7 linked regions of the Homo sapiens genome follow. The protein of the gene in region 1 purifies or fractionates together with the protein of each later gene. This does not show direct contact. Each region holds a gene or a part of one and is shown on either strand. Other genes may lie near its edges.

Region 1 (3,500 bases):
GATCCAATTCTTTTTTTTTTGAGACAGGGTCTTGCTCTGTCACCCAGGCTGGAGTGCAGTGTTGCGATCTCAGCTCATTGCAGCCTTGACCTCCTGGGCACAAGCGATTCTCCCACATCTACTTCCTGAGTAGCTGGGACTACAGGTATGTGCCACCATGCCCGGCTCATTTTTGTATTTTTTGTAGAGATGGTGTTTCGTCATATTGCCCAGGCTGGTCTCTTAACTCCTGGGGTCAAGCAATCCTCCCACCTCAGCCTCCCAAAGTGCTGGGATTACAGGCGTTGAGCCACCATGCCCAGCTCAAGATCCAATTCACAAACTTCTTCACTCATACTGTTTCACAGTAACACCTCAATAATTCAGGCTGGCTGACAGATTAGCCTTGATGAAAAGTCTGAGTTATTCATTAATTGATCAATAACTGTTTATGGATTACCTAATATGTGCTACAAATTTGTTTCTTGCAGTAAGCAGGACACAACAACCCTGCTTACATTCAACTGTTGGTGAGAAGGGGAACTGCATATGACTGGAAATAAACAATAAAAGTAACATACCATAGAAAGCATTTTGCAAAGCATTAAAATTAAACAGTGAGTAACTGGATGGTTATTTTTTATTGGTTTGTTTCCCTAACCCTACTCCCTGAGACCCAGAGCCAACAAAAACAAACTGGCCTCTCATAAGGGAGGAGGGTAATGGCCTCATAGCCCATTGGCTTCTATCTGCACCCTATGTTCTGTAGCACAGTAGATGTCCTTCAGAAACACAGTGTTGAACTGTCCTATCCGGAGACAGGAGACCAGATGGTTACACTGGACCAAGAGGGCATTTATTATAGGGTTCTGTTGGTAGTGGAAATGTAAGGAAGAGATGGCTTTAAGAACATTTAGAAGGTACAATCAACCAACCACCAGGATATTTGTTAAACAACGAGATGTGGAAGGAGGGAAACAGTTGGCGACTCTGAGGTTTCTAGGTGGGAGGATTGGTGTGCCATTAATCAAGAAGGTAAACCCTGGAGGGAGCAAATTTGAGATGAGTTTGACTCGGGTCAGAGTGAGTTCTGATGCTATTCCTAGCCATCTTATCTTGCTTTTTTTCCATAGCAATTATTACCATGTAATATATTATGTATTTACATATTTATTTTTTTATTGCCTATTTCCACAACCAACACCACCGTACAAATTTGAGTCCCTTCAGGGCAGAAAGCTTGTCTGTTTGGTTCAAGGAATTTATGGATTTATTTCTATATCCATAATACATTGTACTGCACTTAGCATTGTGCATATTTAGTTATGCTAAATTAAAATACACAAGACTATAATACTATGATACCTCCAATAATACTCTCTAGCCCACCCATCCTAGATTTTGGCTGCCTCCATGCATTTGCAGTTATTTACCACAAATTCTCACTGCCCCTAACGTAGAGTCACTGGGACTATTTTTGTGGGTCTTCTGGTCCTCACAAAAAGAATACTTCCATGCTTCAGGTAAGGCTCAAATTTTTTCAATCCATCAAGGCCCCACCACTTTTAAAATTATTTCTTAATCCTTGCCTTCCCGTCCTCCCAAGAAACTCTGTTTTGAAATATCTCCTAATCTAAAAATGAATATAAATTTCTGTAATTTAATGACCAGATCACATCACACTGATCAAAAGTCATGACAAAATTAACAGGGTTGATACATGAATTTGATAAAATCTAGTAGCAAAGAAAACAGATCTTTTAGAATGCCTGTGCTGGTTGTTTGCAGGTGAAAGTGTGAGTGACCATACGACTGTGGTAGTGGAGAACATGTTTCTGGGGCTCCAGTTTTAGGTCTCTTAATGGTCCTGTCTTGGTTTAACAAAATTGGAATTGATAAAAGAAGGGCTCTCAAAAGAAAGAAAACAGAAAAAAGTTCTGGAATTAATACAATCTATTCAGAACAAAGGAGGGGTGTCTAGATACTATAAAACCTAAAACATGAGTTTGCACCAAGCTTTGAGGGAAAAAAAAAGTCACACTGATAACATATGACATTGACATAGCAATTTAAACCATTTGGGGCTTTCATATTTACTATTTCTTTTGATCCTCATATCAACTCTAGGGAGGTATTATTACTTTATTAATTATTTATTTTATAGAAAACTTATCTTCAGAAAGGCTAAGTGATTTGCTCCAGGTCATATAACCAGCAAGAGGCAGTGCTAGGAAGCACTAGATGTTCAGATACAAGGTCCAGTGACTTCTCCATTCAAAACACTGCCTCTCTAGCAGAAGGGGATTGCTTAGGTTAAGTGCTTAGAATCATTATGTGGCAAAAATAAAACTTCAGCTATACATTTGAAAAAACTGTTATCAGTTTTGAAATTGAAAAAAATGTTATCAGTTTCTCCCTTAGCAAACAGTTACTCTATCAGTGATGTCTGTAAATAGTTATAATAGATGATTGGATAGTATCATCTCTACATGGGCTAGTTGACTTTGTTCTTCTTGGCCACAGATAATAATATCCCTATCTCAGGAGGTCATTTTGCAAATGCAAATTATGCTAATGAAGGGCTCAAGGGAAGAGTATGGATGAATCTGTATAGGTCTATGAACGATTTATTCACTAGAGCAAAGTGCCTGGCACATAGTAGGCACACAATAACTGTTTGCTACATGAATGGAGAAAAAAATTTTTAATTGATGGAAAATTAGTAGAATCAAATTCCTTGTTATAGGTATTTCATGTCAATATTAAGATAGCTATTAACTGGTCTCTATTTGCTGTCACTCTTATAAAATCATTAGATATTTTCTGAACACCTACTATGAGCACAGTGTTATCTAGATGTTATGAGGAAAGCAGAAGTGATAAACATAATGGCTAACATGGTATGTTTTCCACGTGCTAGAACTTGTTAAGTGCTTTTCATATACGTTTTTTCACTTAAATTTCACTGAGCCCTTATAAAATCCAATGAGGTAGGTACTACACAACCTTCATTGGGTTGTATCAGGAATCTGAAGCTTAGAACTGTCTTGTCCAAAGTCATATGGCTAGTAAATGGCACCAGGATTCTAATCGAGGTAACCAGAGTCCAGAGTTTTAATTCTATTCCACTTGACTACCTTTTTCTATTATCAGCCACACTGTCTGCCCACAAAGTATGTACAATTTTGATAGGAAAGGTTAAAATTGCAGTTTTTAAAGGTTCTTGAGCAGAGGAGGAAAGTAAAAACACTGGACAATTTGGCTGTCATTTGTTGATTCAAATGCTTATTGAGTACCTATGTACTAAGCATCACAGTTAGGTCTAGCAGTGTTTTAGTGAAATTCATTTGGCTTCCATGGGCTGATCAGATGAGGAAGGAAGACCAGCTAAAACTGTAGTTATCCAGCAGTTCTGGAGTCATAATAGTGAAAATTAAGAGAAAATGTACAGAATGCTCATTCATTCAGCAACTGTTTACTGTTCTACCTGAACTGTGTACAAGGCTCTGTGCTAGGTGCTG
Region 2 (3,500 bases), on another chromosome or scaffold:
CATTACTAACTTGCATCAAGTGCCTGGCCTGAGTCAGTCATGTCAGGCATTGCTCTATGCTTTTCCATGTATTAATTCATGACTCAGATTATCCTCCCAACAACCTTATGAATTAGGTACTATTATCTTCATTTTACAGGTGAGGAAATCAGACACAGAAAGGTTAAGAAATTTGCTCAAGGTCACACAGCAATGGAGCCAGGATATACACCTTGGCAATCTTAACCATTCTACTGCCTCTCCCATAAATGAGTGCATCTTTAAGAATAGTATATTCTGGAACATAAATAATCTTCAGGAATATATTATTTCCTTCAGCTGCAGTAGCAGCAACAGGAAAGGGGAAGAGAAACAAACTCAGAAGTCTTTAAGAATGCAAAATGGAAACTTTTCAGCTCAAACTAAATGGTTACACAAAAACAAATAAAGTTAGTGAATTGGCAGTCTCATAAACTGGCCACTTGGTCAATGGGCTTTTGGAGAATCGGCTGGTTTTCCTATTAGTCTTGGCTGCTTCACAACCTCCAGGACCTGGAGTTGGTCACTTAACTTCCTTAATTTGAACTAGCATTGTGCTAATATAGTAGCCTCTGGCCACATGTGGCCTTTTAAGTTTAAATTAATTAAAATTACATTTAAGTTTAAATTAATTAAAATTAAAGTTTAAATTAATTAAAATTAAATTTAAGTTTAAATTAATTAAAATTAAATTTAAGTTTAAATTAATTAAAATTAAATTTAAGTTTAAATTAATTAAAATTAAATTTAAGTTTAAATTAATTAAAATTAAATTGAAAAAGTCAGCTTCTCAGCCATGCTAGCCACACCTTGAGTGCTTAACAAGCTTATGTGATGAGCAGCTACCACATGGCCAGATACAGACATCTCCATCACCACAGGAAGTTCTACTGGACAGAGCTTTCTGCTCTGGACTCAGGACCCTCCTGGCTCCAGTATTCTGACACCACAACTAAGCCTGCAAGGTGAAAGGAAGGGAAGAAGTCCCCCCCTTTTTCAGATGCAGAAACCGGAACATCAAGGAAGGGGAAGAGTGAAGACTGTGATTTAAGAGAATGCTCTTGCGAGGATGATTTATCTTCTGTATTCACAGTGCAAAGAGGGAGACAGAGCACTGCCTGGTGCCTGCGGTAACAAGGGAGCCCTTGACACGCTGGCAGCATGGTTCTATGGCTGAAAGCTCATGGGCCATCTCAAAATCCTACCTCTCCTCTTTAACACAACCAAAGGTCAAGAAATAACTATTGTCTCAGAAACCTGAGTCCCACATTTTACTGTGCAAAAATTAACCTCCTTCTAGTTTCCCCCATGCCAACGTGAATGCATCCGGGCAAAGGCCTGCCCATCTGTGAGCACGGAGGAAAATCGATGCTAATCGCTCCTCATCCTTGCAGGCGGGTCCGGCTTCCTAAGGCAGCCCACATTAGCAGCCAGCCGGGCAGGAAGGCCCAGACTGCTCAAAGCCCAGAGGACAGAAGGAAGCACTGCCTAATGGGCAATGCACAGAGCTGGCTTGATTTATATTTTATTCTAAACCAATTTAGGGTTGATGCAAAAGAAAGGAAAACATCTTTGAAGTTCTGAAAAATAGGACTTCAAAGATGTTTTCCTTTCTTCTCCATCGAATCTACTTTTTTTTAAGACTGTTTCCTGCATGTCTAAACAAAAAAGCCTTTGTTGAGAGATTTCAGATCCTGATTGACTTAAAAGAGGCTTTGAAATCAAGGGACAAATAAGTTTACTTTTAGCTATATAGAAGAGGGTATGGTATTCGCTACTGTCAAGCATTGTGGGGAATCTATCCTCATAAAATTCTACATTTCCTAAATTAAATTATAAACCCATTTTCCCTGGGAGAGAGTTTTAATCACATGGCCCAGCAAATATAATCACGGTTTAGATTTCTTTAAATACTTTCCCTCTAAAAAAAAAAAAACTCTAATAGCTTTATCATAAGGGGCCCACTGAGTTTTATTTCCTTGCTATTTCTTGAGGATAGAGAAAGGAAGAATATAAGCTAAGAAGTCTTGTTAATGGCTCTAAATGCTAGAAAAAAAAGTCAAGACAGGCAAGTATCTTATATGAATAGCTCTCCTTACAGCAACAATGCAAAATGAGAAGAGCAATTTAAAAAACAAAATGGGTATTATGGGTATTTATTTATCCAAGATCTCAAATGAAACAAAGCAGTAAGAACCTGGAGGTTTGGTCTCCTTCCGTGGCTCTCAATTCTTTATCTTACCTGAAGAGTGGACTGTCGCAGCACACGCAATGATACATTCCTGCTTCCTTGTTATTCAGGTAGATCCCACTGAAAGGCTGAAAGTAAATTAGATATGTCATGTTCAGATTTCTCATACTACTGGCAGGAGTTGAAACAGCAGATTTAAATCCTGGGTAAGTCCCCAAATCAAGGAATTTCTGTACTAATTTGACGAAGTGCAAATAACGCCAGAGAGAAAATTATAATGTACCCAATGAAGCAGCCTGCAGATGTATTTACAGCCTGGGCTTTATTGCACCCAATATTCAAATTATGACTTTGATAATCTTTGTATTCATACAGGACTTTTCATCCAAGAGCATCAAAGTCGGTGAAAAAGCAAGAAAACAGAGTCTTGTCCTCTGTGACTGTGTGAGATTTCGGTCTCCCTTTTAAAAGAGTTAATACAACAGGAATCTAGTCCACTGTCTAACATACTTTGAAATCTCCAATTAAAGACAGAATATAAATACATAAAAAGCATAGTTCAGTGAGATCAGGCATTTTGCCTTTAATATGCTTCACATAATGTTTAGGACACAGCATACTTAATAAATGTTAAATAATGAGCTAGATTCCCCACCCCCTCAGTGCCCAGGTTACTACTTAGATGAAATTACTGCGTTCATTGTGGGTTACAGGGTTTGCAAGTTTTCAGAGGTATTCTGAGAGGAGAACAAGGAGACAAGTCAATGAATTAGCCAAGTCAATATTTTTTAAAATGTTATTTCTCAAACTTGATTTTTTTTTTTTTTTTGAGATGAAGTCTCACTGTCACCCAGGCTGGAGTGCAATGACACGATCTCAGCTCACTGCAACCTCTGCCTCCCAGGTTCAAGTGATTCTCCTGTCTCAGCCTCCCGAATAGCTGGGACTACAGGTGCACGCCACCACGCCTGGCTAATTTTTGTACTTTTACGGGGTTTCACCGTGTTAGCCAGGCTGGTCTCGAACTCCTGACCTCAAGTGATCTGCATGTCTTGGCCTCTCAAAATGCTGGGACTACAGGCATGAGCCACTGCACCCGGCTGATGACTTTTTTTTAAAGACCATTTTTGCCCAATTTCTTTTGTCATCTCCCCTGTCAAAGAAAATTAAATAAAAAACAACCCTTGCACAAGCTGACCATGAAGATCCGCTATCACAGGGCCTGGCGGCAGGCACTGTCCCCTCCTATGGGCCAGAGGAAAGCCAGAGCACAGAACAGCTCACCAAGTGA
Region 3 (3,500 bases), on another chromosome or scaffold:
AAAGGTCTGAGATTATTTTAGTGAATGCAGGGAAAAAAGAAAAAAAAATCCTATCACACAATCAAAAGAAATATGATAGATATGGAAGGCAAAGGTGATGAAACAAATAACTATATTTCCTGAAATAGAAAATCCAGTAAGTATAACAGAGAAAATATTCAGAAATAGAAATCAAAAAATTAACCCTGATGTAAAGGAAGGAGTAAATCTGGCCTCAGTATTCTCCAAAACCATATTCAAAAATGAGAAGGCAGCCAGGCATGATGGCTCATGCCTGTAATCCCAACATTTTGGAAGGCCGAGGCAGGAGGATCACTTAGGCCCAGGAGTTTGAGACCGGCCTCAGCAACAGTGAGACCTCAACTCTATAAAAAATTTAAAAATTAGTGAGGCATGCTGGTGAATGCCTGTAGTCTCAGCTACTCGGGAGGCTGAGGTAGGAGAAATGCTTGAGCCCAGGGGATGGAGATTGCAGTGAGCCATGATTGTATCACTGTACTCGAGCCTGGGCCTAGGTGACAGAGCAAGATCCTGTCTCCAAAAACAACAACAACAACAACAAAAACAAACAACAACAAAAAACCAAACCAGAAGGCAATTGATCAGAAATGTCTAAAAAGATCTCAGAATGCTATACCCAGTTATGGTCTTTTTTTCTTCCTTTTAAATATTTTTATTTTATTTTAATTTATTTATTTAGAGATAGTGTCTCACTGTGTCGCTCAGGCTGGAGTGCAGTGGGCACAATCATGGCTCACTGCAGTCTCAACCTCCCAGGTTCAAGTGATCCTCCTACCTCAGCCTCCCAGTAGCTGGGATTACAGGCATATGCGACCATGCCCAGCTAATTTTTTATTTTTTGTAGAGACGGGGTCTCACTATGTCGCCCAGGCTGGTCTTGAACTCCTGAACTCAAGTGACCCTCCCGCCTCAGCCTCCAAAGTGCTAGGCTTACAGGTGTGAGCCACCATGCCTGGCCTAAAAAATTTATTTTAAAAAAGTAATTTATCTCTTACAGTTGTGGAGGCTGAGAAGTCCAAGGTCAAGTGGCCACATTTGGTGAGAGCCTTCTTGCTGGTGGGGACTCTGTGAAGTCCCAAAGTGGCACAGTGCATCACACAGTGAGGGGGCTGAGCATGCCAACATGCTATCTCTTTTCAAGTATAAAAGTAACAGGCAGAAATTCTGAAACATGAATGAACTTAAAAATACAACACATTCCAGCTCTTGTAACAAAAAACCACTGGACAATTGTGATTCTTGAGCATTCTGAAAAAAAAACACTAAAAAACCACTAGACAAGAAATCCTGCCCTCCAGCACTTGCGAAGGTAAAAGCGAAGCAAGTTGTGAACACTAAATACACTGAAACGTAGGACCCACACTGTAGCTGAAGGAATGATGAGTGCAGAACAGATAATAATAAAACTAACAACAAAAATTAAGGTCGGGGAAAAATAAGAATGGGTAGAAATTTAAGTACTAATTGCCTCATCTTTCACTGTAGGAAGTCAAATATTCTGTTCTATATATATGAAATTAAATGTAATATGTTCTGTTTTAAAAACAATAGCTTATATATCCTATTTTTTTGAAACTACTTCCATTTATCCTGTCATCCCTTAAACCAGACATGATGGGCACCAAAAGTTAACACTGTTCCTTTCTGAAAGATGGGATATTTAGGGATTAGTTAATGATGGTTAGAAATCTTTAGGAGCTATGCTTATGAATGATTTTTCCCCTTTTCTCTGCTTTCTTATATATTCTGTATTTTGAAATGCATCCATATACATTAAAAAAAAAAAAACCCAAAAACCTGAATGCTTCTGACCATAGATGATAAATCATGAGACGATTAAGAATGACAAAAAAGAACAAGACTGAGAAAAGACTCTGCTATAGAGAAAACCAAACTTGTTTAAAGGCAAACGAGCAGAAATTAGCAGAGAAGAAGCAGACTGAGAAGCAAGGGCCCTTGAAATGAGTAAGGGTTCCACCAGTTCACTAATAAACCCCATCTAAATGCCAGTAACTCCCAAATTAATACCTCCATACCAGGTCTTTCCCTGAACCCCATATTCCTATCCAACTACTTACTCATGAGCATAGTCGGCCCTCCCTACATGTGGGTTCTACATTCATGGGTTCAACTAACCGCGACTGAAAACATCTTGGGGGGAAGCATCTGTACTGAACATGTATAGAACTATTTTTCTTGTCATTACTCCCCAAACAATACAGTACAACAACTATTTACATAGTGTTTACATCTTGCCCCTACATCTATTCTCTAAACAGCAGCTAGAGTGATCCTTTTATTTATTTATTTATTTGAGAGGGAGTCTCAATCTGTTACCCAGGCTGGACTGCAGTGGTGCGATCTTGGCTCACTGCAACCTCCATCTCCTGGGTTCAAGCAATTCTTCTGCCTCAGCCTCCCGACTAAGAACCTGAGATTACAGGTGCCCACCAACCCGCCCGGCTAATTTTTGTATTTTAGTAGACAGAGCGTTTCACCATGTTGGTCAGGCTGGTCTTGAACTCCTGACCTCAAATGATCCAACTGCCTCGGGCTCCCAAAGTGCTGGGATTACAGGCGTGAGCCACCGTGCCCAGCCTAGAGTGATCCTTTTAAAGCATAGATCAGATCATGTCTTTCCTTTGCTCAAAACTCTCCAATGACTCACATCACATCTTACTCAGAATAAAACCCAGTCTCTACCATGCCCTATAAGGTATCATATCTTATGATTTCCAGCACAGGTTCCTGCCTCAGGGCCTCTGTGTTTGCTCTTCCCTCCATCCAAAATGTTCTCCCCACAGTTGCAAGGTTCACTTTCTTACTTCATTCAGATCTCTTCTCCAATAATGTCAGAGAGGAGTTCCCTGACTTTTCTACTAAAATTCCATCCCCACACCCTTTTCCTGCTTTATTGAGAGCAATAATTCTGTCTCTTTGTTTATAGGTATCTCCCTAGAGCTTAAAAAAGTATCTGACACAAAACAGGTACTCAGTATTTGTTAAATGAATGAATCGATAAAAGAACCCAGGATTTTATTATTCTCAAAATATTATAAAGTCTTTCCTTCTTATTGATCAGACTACTTGCATCACTATAATTCAGACAAATATTATTTGTTCTTAGTGAGCAGTACATGTAAGTTATGAAAAACTCTACCAAGCCTAGGAGTAAAGGTTGGTTTCTGGTCAATTCCACACATGTGTGTTTGAGGAAGGCAGGCGTTGTCACCAGAATCAACCAACACAGACCTTAGTAAGTGGAAAAGAGAGCTCTGGCTGCCTTATCACCTATTTACGACAGAGACTTCAGAAACTAATGCTGGCTTTAGAAAAAAAGACGAAAAGGAGAAAAAAAAAAGAAAACATAAACTAATGTTGGCTTAACTGTACCTGTCCCTGTTGGGTCACCTCCTTGGATCATGAAGTCTTTGATAATTCTGTGGAATTTTGTGCCATTGTAGTAACCTCGACGAGCC
Region 4 (3,500 bases), on another chromosome or scaffold:
CCTGCCTTTCACTCTTGAAAGTGTCCCAGTTTGGGTGATAAACCATCTGGTCACCTTAAACTTGAATGCTATGAAGTTCACAGTAAGAATTCCCTGCTGTTTTATTGCCTTTTATATCCTAGCTGGCTAAGTTAAAGGATTTCTGGAGTTGAAGCCCAGATGCTGAAAGTTGCTTTCAAAATATATGGCGGTAAAGAAAGGAAGAAAGCAAATGGATATCTGGCAGCCTGGCTTCTCACTTGGCATCTCCCAGGCTTTCCCTTTTGTTTACACCTGAACTGCGTGGAGCACTGGCTCAGCTGCTGTATTAGGCTGCAGCTATTCTACTGGGCTCTTCACTGTATTAGACAGTGGGATGATGCCCGGCCCTGGGTAGCTGCTGCAGACATTTCCACTGCTGAACCTCACTGTAGGGGAGCCAGCAGCTCCTTTCGTGAGCCTGCAGGATTTTTCCCTGGCTACTCAGTCACTTTCACCAGCCCTTCTTTGAAGCCCCACTTCAAAGGATAAAGTTTGCCTTAAGAATTTTCTGAAAGTTAAATCATTTTGAAACTTGGTGCTCTAGGTGTCTGGTTTCTTTTCTCCCAGTGACTCTGCTCTATACATCAGCAGTTTTGGTAGAATTTAGCCAAGTGGGTGCCCCACACTCTGATGTGGATGGGGAAGAACAAGTAGAACCACTTAGCATGTGACCCACGCGAGTGTTTGCTGAACACACTCTACTTGTCACTTGTGTATGTCTTTTGTGTTGGAGTGCAGATGATAGGGAAAAATACTCCATACAGAAGGGTAGAGGCAGTTCTCACTCATTTCGTAAAGGCAGAGGGCTGGAAGCTCTTTTGTGCACACGCTGACACTCTGGCAGCCACCTAACAAATGCCAACCAGGTTGAGTTTTTCCTCTGCATGAATGAAGCTGCTTGGAATCAGCGTTTTAATATGCTGATTGCCCTTCACTTACAAATCAAAGAGGCAGCCTCCTGTCTCTATATTTTCCAGTAAATAAACATTTTGAAAAAGAAAGAGACCTAACTAATTAAGCTGTTAATATCCCTGGATCTTGGATTCAAAGCCAAATGTTTTGCACTGTTATTGCTATTACAACAGAACCAAGTTTGCTGTTGTTGAAAATTCTTAGGATCAGGACAAAATCTACCAATCCACTATATGCTCATTTAAGAGACCCAAATCTAAAACAACAAATTCAGATTGCTTCTAAAGCAAAGATATGATCATCAGTCAGGCTTCAAATGAGAGCCTTCTCCTAGCCCTTCCAATTTAGGGGACCTTTTCTCCTGTATCTGTGTCAATCACTGGTGAATGTGTTGAAGTTTACCTGTAGGGATGAACAAACATTCATTTTTTTCCTAACCAATCTGTGGCCCCTTTTCCATTTTTTCTTTTTCTTTAATACCAGAAGGATAGTAATAGAGAGCAGATGGATTGCTGGGGGGATGAGTTGTGTAACTGGCTTACCTATCCGTAGAAGCATAAAGTTAATTCTCTTAAAGGTAAAGTAATTCTGGTCTCTAGCCTCCATTTACATACACTATTCTCACAGAGAAACATGGCTTCTTAGACTCTCCACCCTCTAAGCACCTCAGTGGCTCACACCTACACACCCAGCATCTCCCCATGTTATGCAGCATCACCCCTGGCACCTCCATTTGCCAATATTTTTTCCAGTAAGCCACTTGGCAGCATTTTGGCATGCCGTTTTGGAGATGATAAACCACACCTGAGAATCAATGCCTGTCGCGTGATTAGAACACAACCATGTGTTTGCCCATCGAAAGTAACAGTTATTTGTGAATTGAGCAAAAATAATTCTTATTTTTTATTCTTTTTAAGGAGAAGGCAGAGTTAAAAACAAGACAGGCGCTGATCATTGGAATGTGTATAAAGTGTGATATGTTAGACACAATGGTATCGAGGAGAGTGAAAGACAGAAGGAGAAAGATAGAATGTAGCTACGGCTGAAGTTTTGCTGAGTGAGAAAAACTGATCTTTGCCATCAAAACAAGTTCAGTGTCCCCCGAGCCCCCATCAGGGGTGTGGTGGCCTCTGGGGTCCTGTCCACAGGGACTCAGCTCAGGGCCCTGCTCTCTCCAGTTTTCCACTTTATAAAAAGTCATATGCAGAGAGGCCCCTGGCTTATGGGAGTCAGGGAGTGGTGTTATCCAAAGGTTGTCCCCAACCAGCCATATTTGTTACTAGCTCAGAACTTGAGCAAAGTACTCCCTTTAGTTGCCACAGTCTTCACCCACCTGGGCTGATTTCTTTGTCCTGTATATTGGAGTCACCAATGAGTATCTCCAGCCTCACTTATTAATGGACCTCTTGGCTAATTCTGAGGGCAGGAGGATTACCATCCCCACCCCTACCCACTTACCCAAGGCTGTTTACCAACCTATGCAAGGCCTTTGTGTGAATTAGGAAAAAAAACCACCCTTGTTCCTCTATGAAGATATGAAGATGCAGCCCTGCACCAGCCACACATTTGGGGGGTAGAGTAGGGGACTGGGCTTTAGTACCATTCATCCCTTTAGTCTGATGCTTTTGTGCAGTGCACACAACACACACCCAGATGCAGCAATCCTATTCATATTGTGGGTTTCTCTTATCTGGAAATGTTCTCTTATGTGGAAATGTCCACTTATCTGGGTCTCATACCATTTCTGCTCAGTCATGCAATTCATAATGGACTAGTGAATCCTAGTTTCCTAAAGGGCTTCTTGATGCCTTGCAAAGCGACTGCCTCCAAGGTGGGGTTGCCCACTCATGGACCTGGAAGACATTTGGATCAGTGGGCACAAATGATGGGCTATTTGGATGTTTTTCCTTCAGGCATGAAGAACCCCTCTAGGAAACTCTGATTCATTAGTCCATCCTGAGTGACATGACTGTATTTAGGCAAACAGTATTTTTCCAGCCAATTGTTTCCCTAACCTGACCTGAGCCTCAGAAAGTGAAGATGATGGGTCATTGAGTCAATGATGCTCATGAACATCTCGAGGGTTTGCTTTGCCTTTCTCAGTTGAAGGGATGCTGACCAGAGTCCAAATCACAGCCTCCTGGATGTTCAGCCCCATCTTTACTTTTAGCGCAGGATCTGCCCTCAGTGGGGTTTTCCAGTGTGCTCTCTCTCTCTTTCTCATCCCATGACTTCATTACTGAGAGGTCATCCAACCACTCTGTCTCATCTTAGAACAAGAGAAGACCTCGTCGGTTTTCCTGGGCTACGTCAAAGCTGAGAGTTCCTGGCACACATTACCCTTCCAGACCAGGACATGCATTGAGAGTTGTGGCCATACTCTCGCTCAGTGTGTGAAGGAAGCCTATCTGCCTCCTGTTTCCCCAGACGCTACAGGAAGCTCAGTGATGCCTTGTGCTTCCCTAACTCTCTCTTACGTTCTCACTCGTACCCTAGTGAAGATGCAAAGGAGAGAGAAGAGCTCCTGACTTGTCAGCTCCCAGCCATTAGCCCAATCATGACAGAAC
Region 5 (4,081 bases), on another chromosome or scaffold:
CCCCTGACCACATTCAAAACCACCAAGATCTGTGATCAGCATCATATAATCAATTTCTATTTGTTCCTGCAATACACAAGAAATGTCTAGAAGATGATCACCACATTTGGAGGCTGTATTTGCATGCTCTGACTTAAAACGTTGCTATGTGAGATAGAAAAACATTACTGGCAATGGGGGAGAGGATACCATTCAAAGAAATAGGCAGTGTCCTTCAGGGCAGCGGAAAGGGCTGTGGAGGCCCCAGGACCACATCAGAAGACTGATCAAGTGGGAAGAGACATTGGGCCCCACTCTATCTAGTTTACAGTCCTTTAGGACAAACTTGGGGTCACCTATTTGGGGGTACCTCTGTTCAGCAGCCTATCCTGTCCTTATCCATCATCCCTGTGCCCAGGAGCTGGCCCTCCTCCATGAATGATCTCCTGGGGACAACAATGAGACAACTGACTCCACTTTGGTGCCTACCTCTGGCGCAGTCCAGGGGAATTTAAATTCCCTACTGCTATTAACCTACGCAGACACTGCAGGCAAAAATGTACCCTGGGCCATGTTCCTATGTACCTCTGTTAAAATTCAGGGTCTATCTGCCCCTCTGCTGTCTGAGCTGAGGCTGGTCAGAGGCATTTCAGAACATGCTCTCAGCTGGTTTTGCAAAGCTGAGATTCAATTCTCCTGAGTTACTCCTGGAAGGACATACAGGCACCACAGCACGGCACAGTTCCACTTGCTTTTAAATCACATTGAGTTTACAAATTCAGAAACGGCTCAGTCTGGCACCAGATGAGGAATGAGAATAAAAAATTAACTTGGCCACATTCTTCCTTGTCAGTAATACTGGGCTCTTCTATGACATGGGCTTTTTCATCATGAGTAGGCGTGTAGATATTCTTAGCTGGACACCAAGCTAAGGGAAAATGACAGTCACTCTCCAACATTTGTAAGTACTTAGAAGTTTACTTCCTGTCATATTTATTCGTGACTCTTCCAAAGGAGTGCTGCCTGCTTTTTCATCCCCCAAATCTGGGCGCAAACACTGCACACAAGTCTTTATAAATACGCCTATTTTCCCACTGAAAATGTTTCAGCTCTAGGAATACATTTTAAAACCTATATTTTCCCCTCCCCAGTTTACCACACCCTTGTTTTTCCTGGCAAAGCCATCAGAATTTGAAGTCCAGTAGAGAATTTCCTTTTGATTCCATCAGAATAAAGAAACACTGGCAGCATCCTTCAGTCATTTCACTTTTCCCTCACATTAAAGTGGGTTTATGACCATGAACACTTCGTATTAATAAATGTCTCAGCACACCCAAGCCTGAAAATCTGATCTAAACCTCCTTAACTTGAATTCCATCCACAATCCACAACTTCCTCGGAAAAAATCTCTCCCAGCTTCTCCTTCCTCTAGCCCAAGAAACAGCCTTAACAGCGAGCGATTTCATTCCTACACTCTTTGCTCAGCTTGACTTTGCTCCTCACGGCAAAAGTTGAGTTTGAAACGCCAAAGAGTCACAGTGCAAATTCTAATGGCACCAAACAGGCTTCGGTTAAACACATTTCTAAGAAAAAGAAGACCAAGTTTCTGAACCCTACAGAAGATTCAGGCGTTTGTGACTAAGTGTGGGTCATCCCTGAGCTTTTTCTGGAACAGATTCAGCGTTTCTACCTTCACAAATGACTGTCCCTCTAGCAGTCTGGACAGTGTCTAGATCTGAGACCTAAACATGCCCTGTTATGTGGCCAAGACTTACTGGAGCTCATTTAAACTTATCGTCCCTTAGTTTTTTGGTGGAAAACAGGGCCACCATGCTCACCCTTAAAACATACGCTGGGCATTGTGCTCACTTGGAAAACATCTTAGGGTGATGGATGGGTTTCCCTCCTTATCTTGGAAGACACCTTTTCTTCCTTGTTACCTGGCTTGGCAATTTTACTTTCCCCATACATCTCATCACAAGTATTCATGTTAGTATATATCATTTGCTCAGTCCCTTCACGGGCAGGCACGGGGTGGCGTTATTACCCCCGTTTTACACAGTGGAAACTGAGGCTCTAAGAAGTTAATTGACCCACCGCCATACAGGTAGTAAGTAGCAGAGCTGGATTAAAACCCAGGCTTGTCTGGTTTAAAATTGCTTGTTGTTTCCACTTTGGTCAGCCTCGCTTACGACAGCTCCGGGAGAAGTCTCTGGAGTCCGTGCGAGCCGGCGGATCAGGTCTAGATGGAGGTTCTTTAACGACCCACCTCTCGGCGATCTCTTAACCAACTCCCCCAGCGGAGCCCCCACCCCCCGAACTTCGGCTCTGGGGCTCCCCTCCCACCCACTGCCATTCCTGCCTTTTCTTTTCCAGCCCCTACCAGCTGGGGCGGCCTCACGCCGGCAGGTGCCCACCGGGCCGGGGCGCCTCGGGGCGCCGGGAGGGGAAGAGGGTCCGCGGCCAGGCCCGCACCTACCTCGTCCCCGAAGCGCACCACCTTCTGGCCCGTGGGCCCGCGCAAGCCGGGGAAGCGCGTGAGCTCCTCCGAGTCCCCGGGGTCTCGGGGCGCCGGGGCGCGCGGCCCCACCAGGCACCGGTCGATGATCTCGTCCTGCTGCGCGGGCGGCAGCCGCGCCCACTCGGGCCCGTACTTCTCGCGGATCTTCTCCTTGTCCTGCATGATCTTCCTGGCCATGGGGCTCAGCGACGAGAAGTAAGTGAAGCGCTTTCGCTCCCGGTCGTCCAGAGGCCGGTTCCCGCTCATGACCGCCGAGCGCGAAGCCGCGATCGCCGCCGCCATGGACGCCATGCCCGGCCTGCCCGCCGCTCCCGGCCCGCGCCCCGCCCCTCGCTGTGCCCGCCCTCGCCCCGCCCCGCGCCACCCGGAGCCCCGCCCCCTCCGGGAACCCCGCCCTGCACCGCCGCGTACCCGGGTCTCCAAGCCAACCCAGCTCCCCAAGCCCCGGGACCCCGGCCCTCCGTGGCCCCCTCCCCGGGAGCTCCTCCCTCCGGGCCCCCCCCCGCCACCCCCTCGCGGACCCCACGAGTCCCCCTTTACGCCTCCATAGTGGATTACCGCGGTGCCCGCAGGTTTCGGGCTCCCCTTACCCGGCTCAGGTGGTAGCCGGCGTGTCCCTGAGTCCGCGCCCGGCGCTCTGAGAGGGTGGCCGTGGTTAATTCCCGGTAGTGACCGCCATAGCGCCACGTGGCCACTGCTTGACAAAGGAAACTTTTTTCAACCTCCAGTGAGCCTAAGAAAGCCCCAGCATTTCAGGCCAAGCCGCTGGCTGCCTGGCTTCTGTTTTTACTCCTTTCCTTCTGTCCCTTTCTGGGACGAGCCACACCTTCTCTGCTTTCTCTGGGCCCGTCCAGGACGCTGGGCCCGGGGCCTGGCGCGGTGAGCTGCAGATAGCCGGGGGCGCAGGGCAGCCCGGAGGCTGGAGGGCGACCTGGAAGGCTGGACCGGTTCGGGGCATCTGGTGCTCAAGGAAAGTCAGCTCCCGCCGCCCCTCGGGGCCAGGTGGGTGCATGAAGTACCCGGTGGCCCAGGTGCCTTTCCCCAACCCAAGGAGCTCAGAACTCTTGGCAGTTCGACGTTTGCAAACAAACCAAAGAGGAGCAGAAAGTTTTCAGACTCAGAGGCGACATCCCAACAGGTAGGGGGCCAGGGTTTGTAATTTTGAGGTGTGTCCCAGACAGACCACAAAATTAAAATTATAGCGAGCCCCCACTTCCCCCAAGCCCCTCTCTCCATCTGACTGATTTTAACAAGACTAACAGGACTCAGGTGAGAATTGTGTCCACTCGTAAAATAAAAAAACAAAAACAAAAACCAGCATTTCAGCTGTTATCCAGGGTCTTTGCCTGGATAGTTCTGAACACAAAAGTAGAAATAACTTGCAAAGTCCTATTTTAAATGTGAGATGGCCTCATCTTCCGGCCCAGAAATCCTCAGAATATTTTTGGAATGTCATGAATGTGGCAGGCTCTACAGTTAAAGACATTATTATCAACAATGTTCACAACATAATATATTGAAGCAGGGAAAGGCAAGCACCACCAAATATAGTCTCCACAGTAAGTGGCGGATTATTTATGA
Region 6 (3,500 bases), on another chromosome or scaffold:
AGGGCTTCCTCCAAATGTAGGGAGATATCCAGGCTTCCCCCCCTTTGGAATCTCTCCCCCACCAGTGGCCCACTCTTGGCCTTTCAGGCCTCTAGAACTGCCTTTGGATTGGACTACCCTTCCAGGTCAGCAGAGAAGCCCAATGTCCCCATCTCACTAAAACCTGGCAGGCACTTCCACAGAAACTCCGGGGTGCACACAGGGCTCCAAATGCCACCTCTTCTTTACCCCAAATCCTACAGCTCTGTGGGCTGCCCGGGTCTAATGGAAACCACACAGAGCACACCCTCCACTAAGTGCTGGGTAGTGAGAGTGTGCAGCTCTCCCTCTGCAAACCCCAGTTTCCTTGTCTGAGCTCTCTTCCAGCTCCCATGCTGGAGTCCCATGAGTAAGGGCTGTGCTCCCTTCTCCACTACCAGGTGAACCAAAGGTCACAGTGGCCTGTGATACCCCCTCCCCACCCTGCAGCTTCTCGGAGGTGCTGGCTGCCCCTGGGAGCCCCGTTTTGGGAGGCCCCACTTACTGCTCCTGAGAGGCCGGGGCCCAGCTCCATACAGAGGCCTCATGTGGCCAGCCAAGTCCCTCTCCTCTCTGGCCACCATTGTTCCCAAGGTAGAAATAACCTCAGGCCAGCTCAGTAAGGGCACTGTGATCAGACTCTTCCCTGAAGGGACTGCCAGGTGCACAGCAGACTCACATGTGGACTCATTTTTATTACTTGGCTGTGGGGAAGAACAAAACTGCTTCATGGCTACACTATTTTGCAAAGGAAAGAAAAAGAGGACTGCTTCCCCTGGAGCAGAGCCACAACAGCTTCTGTTCTTGTATTCATCATCTGTCCCTGCGTAGGGTGAGAAGGGCAGGAGAACATCTGGACAAGGCCAGGCCAGTGGTTTAGACAAGAGCGTCACAGCACTGAGGTGGCAGCAGTGACAAGTGGGGCGGGCAGCTCCCAGCAGAGAAGGACAGCCCTCAAGGTCACCGGGATGTGGCTCTGCTGAGCTGTGCCTTGCAGCCAGCTGCCTACAAGGAGAGACAGGTGGGGCAGAGATGGGGCTGACCACAGGCCCCTTGAAACTCCCTGGTCCCAGCCAGGGCTCAGGGCCAGGGGCAGATGGGGAGGGCAGGGGAAGCTGCCAGGCCAGAGAGGAGGAGCTGCCCAGCCTGACTGAGGAGTCACACTTCCTACCCCGCCCCACACCCCAAGACGCTGCTGCTCAAGCAACCCCAAATAAAAACCACCCCATAACTAAGGGCCGTGGAGCCTCGGCATACCAACGACTGGCTTCTGAGTGCAGCCACACCCTTCCTCTGCAGCCAGAGTAGACCTCCCCAGCAGTGCCACAGGCCTCCCATGCCAGCTCTGGGGCCGAGCAGGAGCCAAGGCCAGGGGCTCAAGTGACCACAGCTGTTTCCCGAGGGGCAGAGTCACACCCAGAAGCCAACAGAGAGAAGGCTGTGGGGTCACGCACCATCTGCCCACCAACTGTCTGCCCAGGCTGTCTGTGGGCTACGGGATAGATGGAAGCCCTCAAAGACCATCCCAGCCTTAGGCTAATGGGATGCATGTCCCCTCAGGTGCCTCCCAGTGCCCCCAAACCCACCCACCTAAGGAGGTCTCAGAACACCATGACCAGCCAGGCAGAAGGCTCTCATCTCAGACCTACATCTTTCACAGCCTCAGCTCTCCGAGCTCCCTTGCCAAGTGGCACAGTCTAAGCAGGGGCTGAACGGAGCCTCTTGCAGGCCACAATTCATGGTCACAACAGTTTTAGTCTTTGTGATGAAAAAAGACAAACTGATCCCAACCCAAGCTGAACCCACAGCCTTTGCTTTCCCAAGAGGCCAGCTTCTAACCATTGATCCAACAGGCCCAGGATGACGATCCTGTCTGCCACACTCCAGGCCTTACCGCAGGGACCATTTCACCCTTATCAGGATGAGGGAGAAGGTGGACAGGGGCTCCATATAACACAGTTGTGCTCTCTCCTCCTCTCCTAAAACACACAAAGACCAGCATTCCAGGGGGCAAAGACCAGGTCTCCCCAACCAAAATGGCCTTGTGGCAGATGCCCTGTCTTCTTACTCCAAAACCTTTGCTGCTGCTTCCTTCCTTCCCTCTTCTGATATATCCAGGTCCATTCCCTGGGGGTGTGATCCACACCAATCGCATAAAGACCAAAAAGGTCCAAATGACCCATCTGACCCCACAGGGAACAAGGAAAACTAACTAACCACCACATCCCATCCCTGTCTTGGGAGTTAGGGAGGCAAACACAGGACACCCACTGGGGAGTGCTAAGAAGGACGTTGGGCCAGGCGTGGTGGCTCATGCCTGTAATCCCAGCACTTTGGGAGGCCAAGACAGGTGGATCACCTGAGGTCAGGAGTTTGAGAACAGCCTGGCCAACATGGCAAAACCCAGTCTCTACTAAAAATACAAAAATTAGCTGGGTGTGGTGGCACATGCCTGTAATCCCAGCTACTCAGGGGACTGAGGCAGGAGAATCGCTTGAACCTGGGAGGGAGAGATTGCAAGTGAGCCCAGATTCTGCCACTGCACTCCAACTTGGGCAACAGAGTGAGACACTGTCTCAAAAAAGAAAAAAAAAAGGATGTTGAAGATAAAAACCAGAAAATAAATCGCAGAGAAGCATCCAGGATTTCCAGACCAACAGGAACATGACGATCCATGGACAGTTCTACTGAGGGTGGGGAGATCATTAGTTTCCTTGTGTACTACCATTACATTTTGTTTTGAGAATATCCTCTTCAATTATTTGGAAGCCTCTGGTGAAATTCCTCATTTCAAAGACTGCCCCACTCACACAAGACCTTCGGAGGCTGCTGAAGCACCTACAACCCCAGCCACCACCATCACACAAAATGGGGCCCCAGAGTCACCACCACGCTAATATTTTGAGAGCTTCTATGTATCCAGAACTACATTAAGGCTTTTACAGATGGTGTCTTATCTAATCTGTACAACTCTATGATTATTATCATGACCTTTTTCAAAGTGAGGAAGTGGGATAAGTAACCTGTCTGCTGGTAAGTCACAGAACGGGGAGTGAAATCCCAGTCTCCAGGTTTTTAAGCCCTGGGCCATCCTTCCTTCCCAACAGGGCAGGGGCAGCTCCAGGCAGGGCTGCCAGGGAGGAGAGCTGCAGAGCTGCGGGCTTATCTGAGCCTGGTTTCAGGACTGCAGAGGCCTCTCAAGCCCAGCCCTATTTCTTGGGCCTCTTGCAGCAAATAGAATACAGAGAGCTGCAAAGGGCCAGCTCATTTTGTTGGGAACTCTCGTACTCTTCTGTGTACTCCGTCACCCATGGTCCTAAGGCTTTCCTAGGCTCTAAGTTCTAGACTGTCTCCCCCATCCCATAAGAAGCTCTTCCAGACATTGTTACTAAAATCTCCCTTCACCATCACTGCTCTGCACTGACCACCTACCATGTACAGGGACTGTACTAGGTGCTTAAGCTGCATTTTCATTTCATCCC
Region 7 (4,194 bases), on another chromosome or scaffold:
GGATTACAGGCGTGAGCCACCGCGCCCAGCCCTAAATAGAATTTTTAAAACATTTCCTTTTGTTAAGATTTCTACTCCATCTTGCCAGGCGCAGTAGCTCACGCCTATAATCCCAGCACTTTGGGAGGCCCACGCAGGCGGATCACGAGGTCAGGAGATCGAGACCATCCTGGCTAACATGGTGAAACCCCGTCTCTACTAAAAATACAAAAAAATTAGCCGGGCGTGGTGGCGGGCGCCTGTAGTCCCAGCTACTCAGGAGGCTGAGGCAGGAGAATAGTGTGAACCCAGGAGGCGGAGCTTGCAGTGAGCTGAGATAGCACCACTGCACTCCAGCCTGGGCTACAGACTCCCCCTCAAGAAAAAAAATATATATTCTACTCCAACTTTATTTTATTTATGTATTTATTTGAGATGGAGTCTTGCTCTGTCGCCCAGGCTGGAGTGCAGTGGCATGATCTCGGCTCAATGCAAGCTCCGCCTCCTGGGTTCATGCCATTCTCCTGCCTCAGCCTCCCGAGTAACTGGGACTGCAGGCGCCCGCCACCACGCCCGGCTAATTTTTTTGTATTTTCAGTAGAGACGGGGTTTCATCGTGTTAGCCAGGATAGTCTCAATCTCCTGACTTTGTGATCCGCCCATCTCGGCCTCCCAAGGTGCTAGGATTACAGGTGTGAGCCACTGCGCCCGGCCTACTCCATCTTTGTTATGCAGGTACAGCAGAAAATCTTGAACAAAGGATCACCAAGGAGAACCAGCAGAACCAGAAGGTCTCCAGCCCATTTGTTATTCCAATTAACAATAATTTTGTCTTGGGGGGGGGGGGGTGAGCCTTGCATTGTTTTGCTTAAATGTATCAAATTTTTACAGGTAACTGCAGTTTATAAATGAAGATCCAGCACAATGTAATTCTAGCACATTTCTAGTTTTAAAAACAACCTTTGGCCGGATGCGGTGGCTGACGCCTGTAATCCCAGCACTTTGGGAGGCCGAGGCGGGCAGATCACCTGAGGTCAGGAGTTTGAGATTAGCCTGGCCAGCATGGTGAAGCTCCGTCTCTACTAAAAATACAAAAAAAGCCGGGCGCAGTGGCTCACGCCTGTAATCCCAGCACTTTGGGAGGCCGAGCGGGCAGATCACGAGGTCATAAGATCAAGACCATCCTGGCTAAGATGATGAAACTCCGTCTCTACTAAAAATACAAAAAAAAAAAAAAATTAGCCGTGCCTGGTGGCCGGTGCCTGTAGTCCCAGCTACTCGGGAGGCTGAGGCAGGAGAATAGCTCGATCTCGGGAGGCACAAGTTGCAGTGAGCCGAGATCGCGCTACTGCACTCCAGTTTGGGCGACAGAGCAAGACTCTGTCTCAAAAAAAAAAAAAAAAAAAAAAAAAAAGAAAGAAAAGAATAAAGAGAAAGAATCAGCAGATCATGAACACTTGACACTGATTTTTGGGGGGTGTTTTTTGGTCTCCAACTCCTGACTTCAGGTGATCCGCGTGCGTCGGCCTCCCAAAGTGCGGGGACTACACGCGTGAGCCACCGTGCCTGGCCCACGTGACACTGTTAAAAACGGAAAAAAAAGGGGGACTGTTAATTTTCCCAAGTTGCTCAGGAAAGTTATAGCTGGACTGCGAGAAGAGAAGCGAAACACTGTTTTCATTTAAAGTTCACGTAGGTAACTTTGGAGGTAAAAAAGCCATTTCAACTTTCTTACTATCAAAGTTGACACATACCAAATTTTAACTGTAAGTCAAGTGGTCAGTTTCTCAGTTTGCTATGTGACTGAACAAAAAACTTGTTATCAAGCAGGAATAAACTTTCATTAGACATACGCTACGCAAGAGTCACAGGCGGCCAGTTAGCAGGGAATATAAACTAGCAGAGCCAAACCAAGTCCACGTTGTATTCCAGAAACTACCGGTTGGAGGCGTTCCAGGGAGGAAGAGAGGATCTTTCGCAAAAAAAAAAAAAGAAGAAGAAGTAGCAAACACACAAATCCATGGCATTAAAAAAAGAGACCGCTTTGTTATTTACAACATCGTGGTATGCCGTGATTGTGTTGCGCGCCGTTTCCAGGGAAGGTGGCCAACGACGCACACGAAATACCATGATCGGCCGCCGCCGCGCAGCCCCTCGCCGCGGACGCTACCCTCGCCCCCCGGGCCCGGCCTCGGAGAGCTCGAAGGACCACCGGACAGCGGGCGCCTCGTCCCGGAACCTGCCTTCCCTGTGATGCCCACCCGCGTGTGGACTACGCGCGCTGCCGTCCAGCTGCCATCCCAACCAGCCGACCCACGAGCGCGGCCCGGCCCGGCTTCCTCTCAGGGGTCCTGGCGCGGGCCAGGGGGAACCGGGGAGGAGGGAGGGCCGGTCGCCGGAGCAGAGCGCGCGGGGACAGGGTGGAGCCCAACTACCTGAGGATGTTGTGCGCCTCCATGCTCCGGTTCTGGTTGCTCGAGCACACCACCGCCACCCGCAGCGGGGACGACGGCATGGCGGCGGCCGCAAATCCCGCGGCTCTCCCGCTTGGGTTCCCACCCTACCGCGGCGCTTCCGCGCGAACAAAATGGCGGCCGCGGTGGCCGGAAGCGGGCGACGCGAAACGACGGCGCCGGCGGTGTAGCGTGCGGCGACTGCGCGGCGGCCTCCCCGCCCACCCTGGGCGCCGGGCCGCGGACGGAGCGCAGGCACTGGCCTTCGGGCGCGCTGCACTCGGCGAGGCCGGGGGCGGCCAACGCCGCGCCGGCCCCCGGCGTCCGCAGCAGAGACCCGCACTCCACAAGGCCCGGCTGAGCGTCACGGCGCCAAGCGGCGGCGTCCTGACATCAGCACCCCGCGCCGGCGCCTAGTGTGACGCGACGACGTGCGGAACAACAGGACGTCATAAGGTGTCGCCGCCGCCTTTGGGAGCGATGCGAAACGCCGCGCTTGCCGGAGATAGCATTGAGGGCCCTTCCGCGGCCCGGCGTTTCGTCTCTTGGGACGATTTTGTGCGTTCCCTCGGTCCCCGTGGGGCCCATAGTCCTCACTTCTGCCACCCCAGAGTCGTCGCGCTTCACTAGACCCGCTCCCTCCACTGTCCCGGAGGCCCACAGACATTCCCGCATTCTGAGGCTCGCTCCCGTCCCGTGCCGCTGTTACCGGCCTCCGGCCCCGGCTCATACAAGCAGGAGCACATCGCTCTTTTATGAAAGCCCTTCAACATTTAACGTTTAAATGCGAGGGCCGACCTGTGACAGACCTGGTTGGGAGTGCACGTCGACTAGGATCTTCCTCGCCTCGGGCTTCCTTGGAGAGGCCGCCGGCTGGTCTGAGATTTGGGTCCAGTTACAGTAAATCCAGTCAACGCGAGTGTGTCATTCCCCAGCTATGCCTGTCTGCCTGGATGCAGCCTCGCGGTGGACAGTGGGCTGATGTTTTGCCGTGGGAGCGCCACGGACGGGAGAGGGAGTGATAATGATTGTCAACCTAATAACAGGCTAACTGAAAATGATATTTATTTGGGAATAGGGCGTTGGCGAATATGCGTGCCATAGTAAACGATTTGCGCATTCAGGAAAGTAATGGTTTTTAAAGAAAAAATGAAGAGGAAGATAATGGTTTGGAAATAATTAACCTTGGCTACAAAGAACAGTAACAAGTGTACTCCCGGCCGGGCGCGGTGGCTCACGCCTGTAATCCCAGCACTTTGGGAGGCCGAGGCGGGCGGATCACGAGGTCGGGAGATCCAGACCGTCCTGCCTAACCCGGTGAAACCCCGTCTCTACTAAAAATACAAAAAATTAGCCGGGCGTGGTGGCGGGCGCCTGTAGTCCCAGCTACTCGGGAGGCTGAGGCAGGAGAATGGCGTGAACCCGGGAGGCGGAGCTTGTAGTGAGCCGAGATCGCGCCACTGCCCTCCAGCCTGGGCGACAGAGCCAGACTCCGTCTAAAAAAAAAAAAAAACAAGTGTACTCCCGTTCCAGGGTTGGACAGGCAGTTGCTGGGCAGCTGTCCTTGCTGAAGTATTTTTTGTGTAAGATTGCCTTAGTGCAAGGTTGTGGTTTTTGCAGAATCTTGTGATAGTTTTTCTTATTATTGATTCATGAGAATTCTCCATGGCCTTTCCCAGCTGTCTTTGTCAAGGTATTTTTTAAACATAAGTGAGTCCACTTTTATTTGACAACTTGGGTATTTTCCCCTTTTGATTGAGAT

Evidence for each region.
Region 2: the proteins of LACTB2 (region 1) and MSRB2 fractionate together in Homo sapiens (co-fractionation; one large-scale study listed by BioGRID). This does not show direct contact.
Region 3: the proteins of LACTB2 (region 1) and PPIL1 fractionate together in Homo sapiens (co-fractionation; one large-scale study listed by BioGRID). This does not show direct contact.
Region 4: the proteins of LACTB2 (region 1) and PALM2AKAP2 fractionate together in Homo sapiens (co-fractionation; one large-scale study listed by BioGRID). This does not show direct contact.
Region 5: the proteins of LACTB2 (region 1) and C1orf198 fractionate together in Homo sapiens (co-fractionation; one large-scale study listed by BioGRID). This does not show direct contact.
Region 6: the proteins of LACTB2 (region 1) and RAB11FIP5 fractionate together in Homo sapiens (co-fractionation; one large-scale study listed by BioGRID). This does not show direct contact.
Region 7: the proteins of LACTB2 (region 1) and SSU72 fractionate together in Homo sapiens (co-fractionation; one large-scale study listed by BioGRID). This does not show direct contact.

What each region holds. Positions count from the first base shown.
Region 1 is NC_000008.11:70,662,686-70,666,185, forward strand, and holds part of LACTB2 (endoribonuclease LACTB2), read right to left. Parts: intron 595-3,500; exon of another isoform or gene 1-594.
Region 2 is NC_000010.11:23,109,079-23,112,578, reverse strand, and holds part of MSRB2 (methionine-R-sulfoxide reductase B2, mitochondrial precursor), read right to left. Parts: intron 2,338-3,500; coding exon 2,261-2,337; intron 1-2,260. UniProt on the Homo sapiens protein: Methionine-sulfoxide reductase that specifically reduces methionine (R)-sulfoxide back to methionine.
Region 3 is NC_000006.12:36,868,304-36,871,803, forward strand, and holds part of PPIL1 (peptidyl-prolyl cis-trans isomerase-like 1), read right to left. Parts: coding exon 3,415-3,500; intron 1-3,414. UniProt on the Homo sapiens protein: Involved in pre-mRNA splicing as component of the spliceosome. PPIases accelerate the folding of proteins. Catalyzes the cis-trans isomerization of proline imidic peptide bonds in oligopeptides. Catalyzes prolyl peptide bond isomerization in CDC40/PRP17.
Region 4 is NC_000009.12:110,157,698-110,161,197, forward strand, and holds part of PALM2AKAP2 (PALM2-AKAP2 protein isoform 3 (PALM2-AKAP2)), read left to right. Parts: intron 1-3,500. UniProt on the Homo sapiens protein: Binds to regulatory subunit (RII) of protein kinase A. May be involved in establishing polarity in signaling systems or in integrating PKA-RII isoforms with downstream effectors to capture, amplify and focus diffuse, trans-cellular signals carried by cAMP.
Region 5 is NC_000001.11:230,865,722-230,869,802, forward strand, and holds the start of C1orf198 (uncharacterized protein C1orf198), read right to left. Parts: upstream 2,801-4,081; 5' UTR 2,792-2,800; coding exon 2,459-2,791; exon of another isoform or gene 2,083-2,458; coding exon of another isoform or gene 2,077-2,082; intron 1-2,076.
Region 6 is NC_000002.12:73,106,449-73,109,948, forward strand, and holds part of RAB11FIP5 (rab11 family-interacting protein 5), read right to left. Parts: intron 1-3,500. UniProt on the Homo sapiens protein: Rab effector involved in protein trafficking from apical recycling endosomes to the apical plasma membrane. Involved in insulin granule exocytosis. May regulate V-ATPase intracellular transport in response to extracellular acidosis.
Region 7 is NC_000001.11:1,572,064-1,576,257, forward strand, and holds the start of SSU72 (RNA polymerase II subunit A C-terminal domain phosphatase SSU72), read right to left. Parts: upstream 2,801-4,194; 5' UTR 2,495-2,800; coding exon 2,415-2,494; intron 1-2,414. UniProt on the Homo sapiens protein: Protein phosphatase that catalyzes the dephosphorylation of the C-terminal domain of RNA polymerase II. Plays a role in RNA processing and termination. Plays a role in pre-mRNA polyadenylation via its interaction with SYMPK.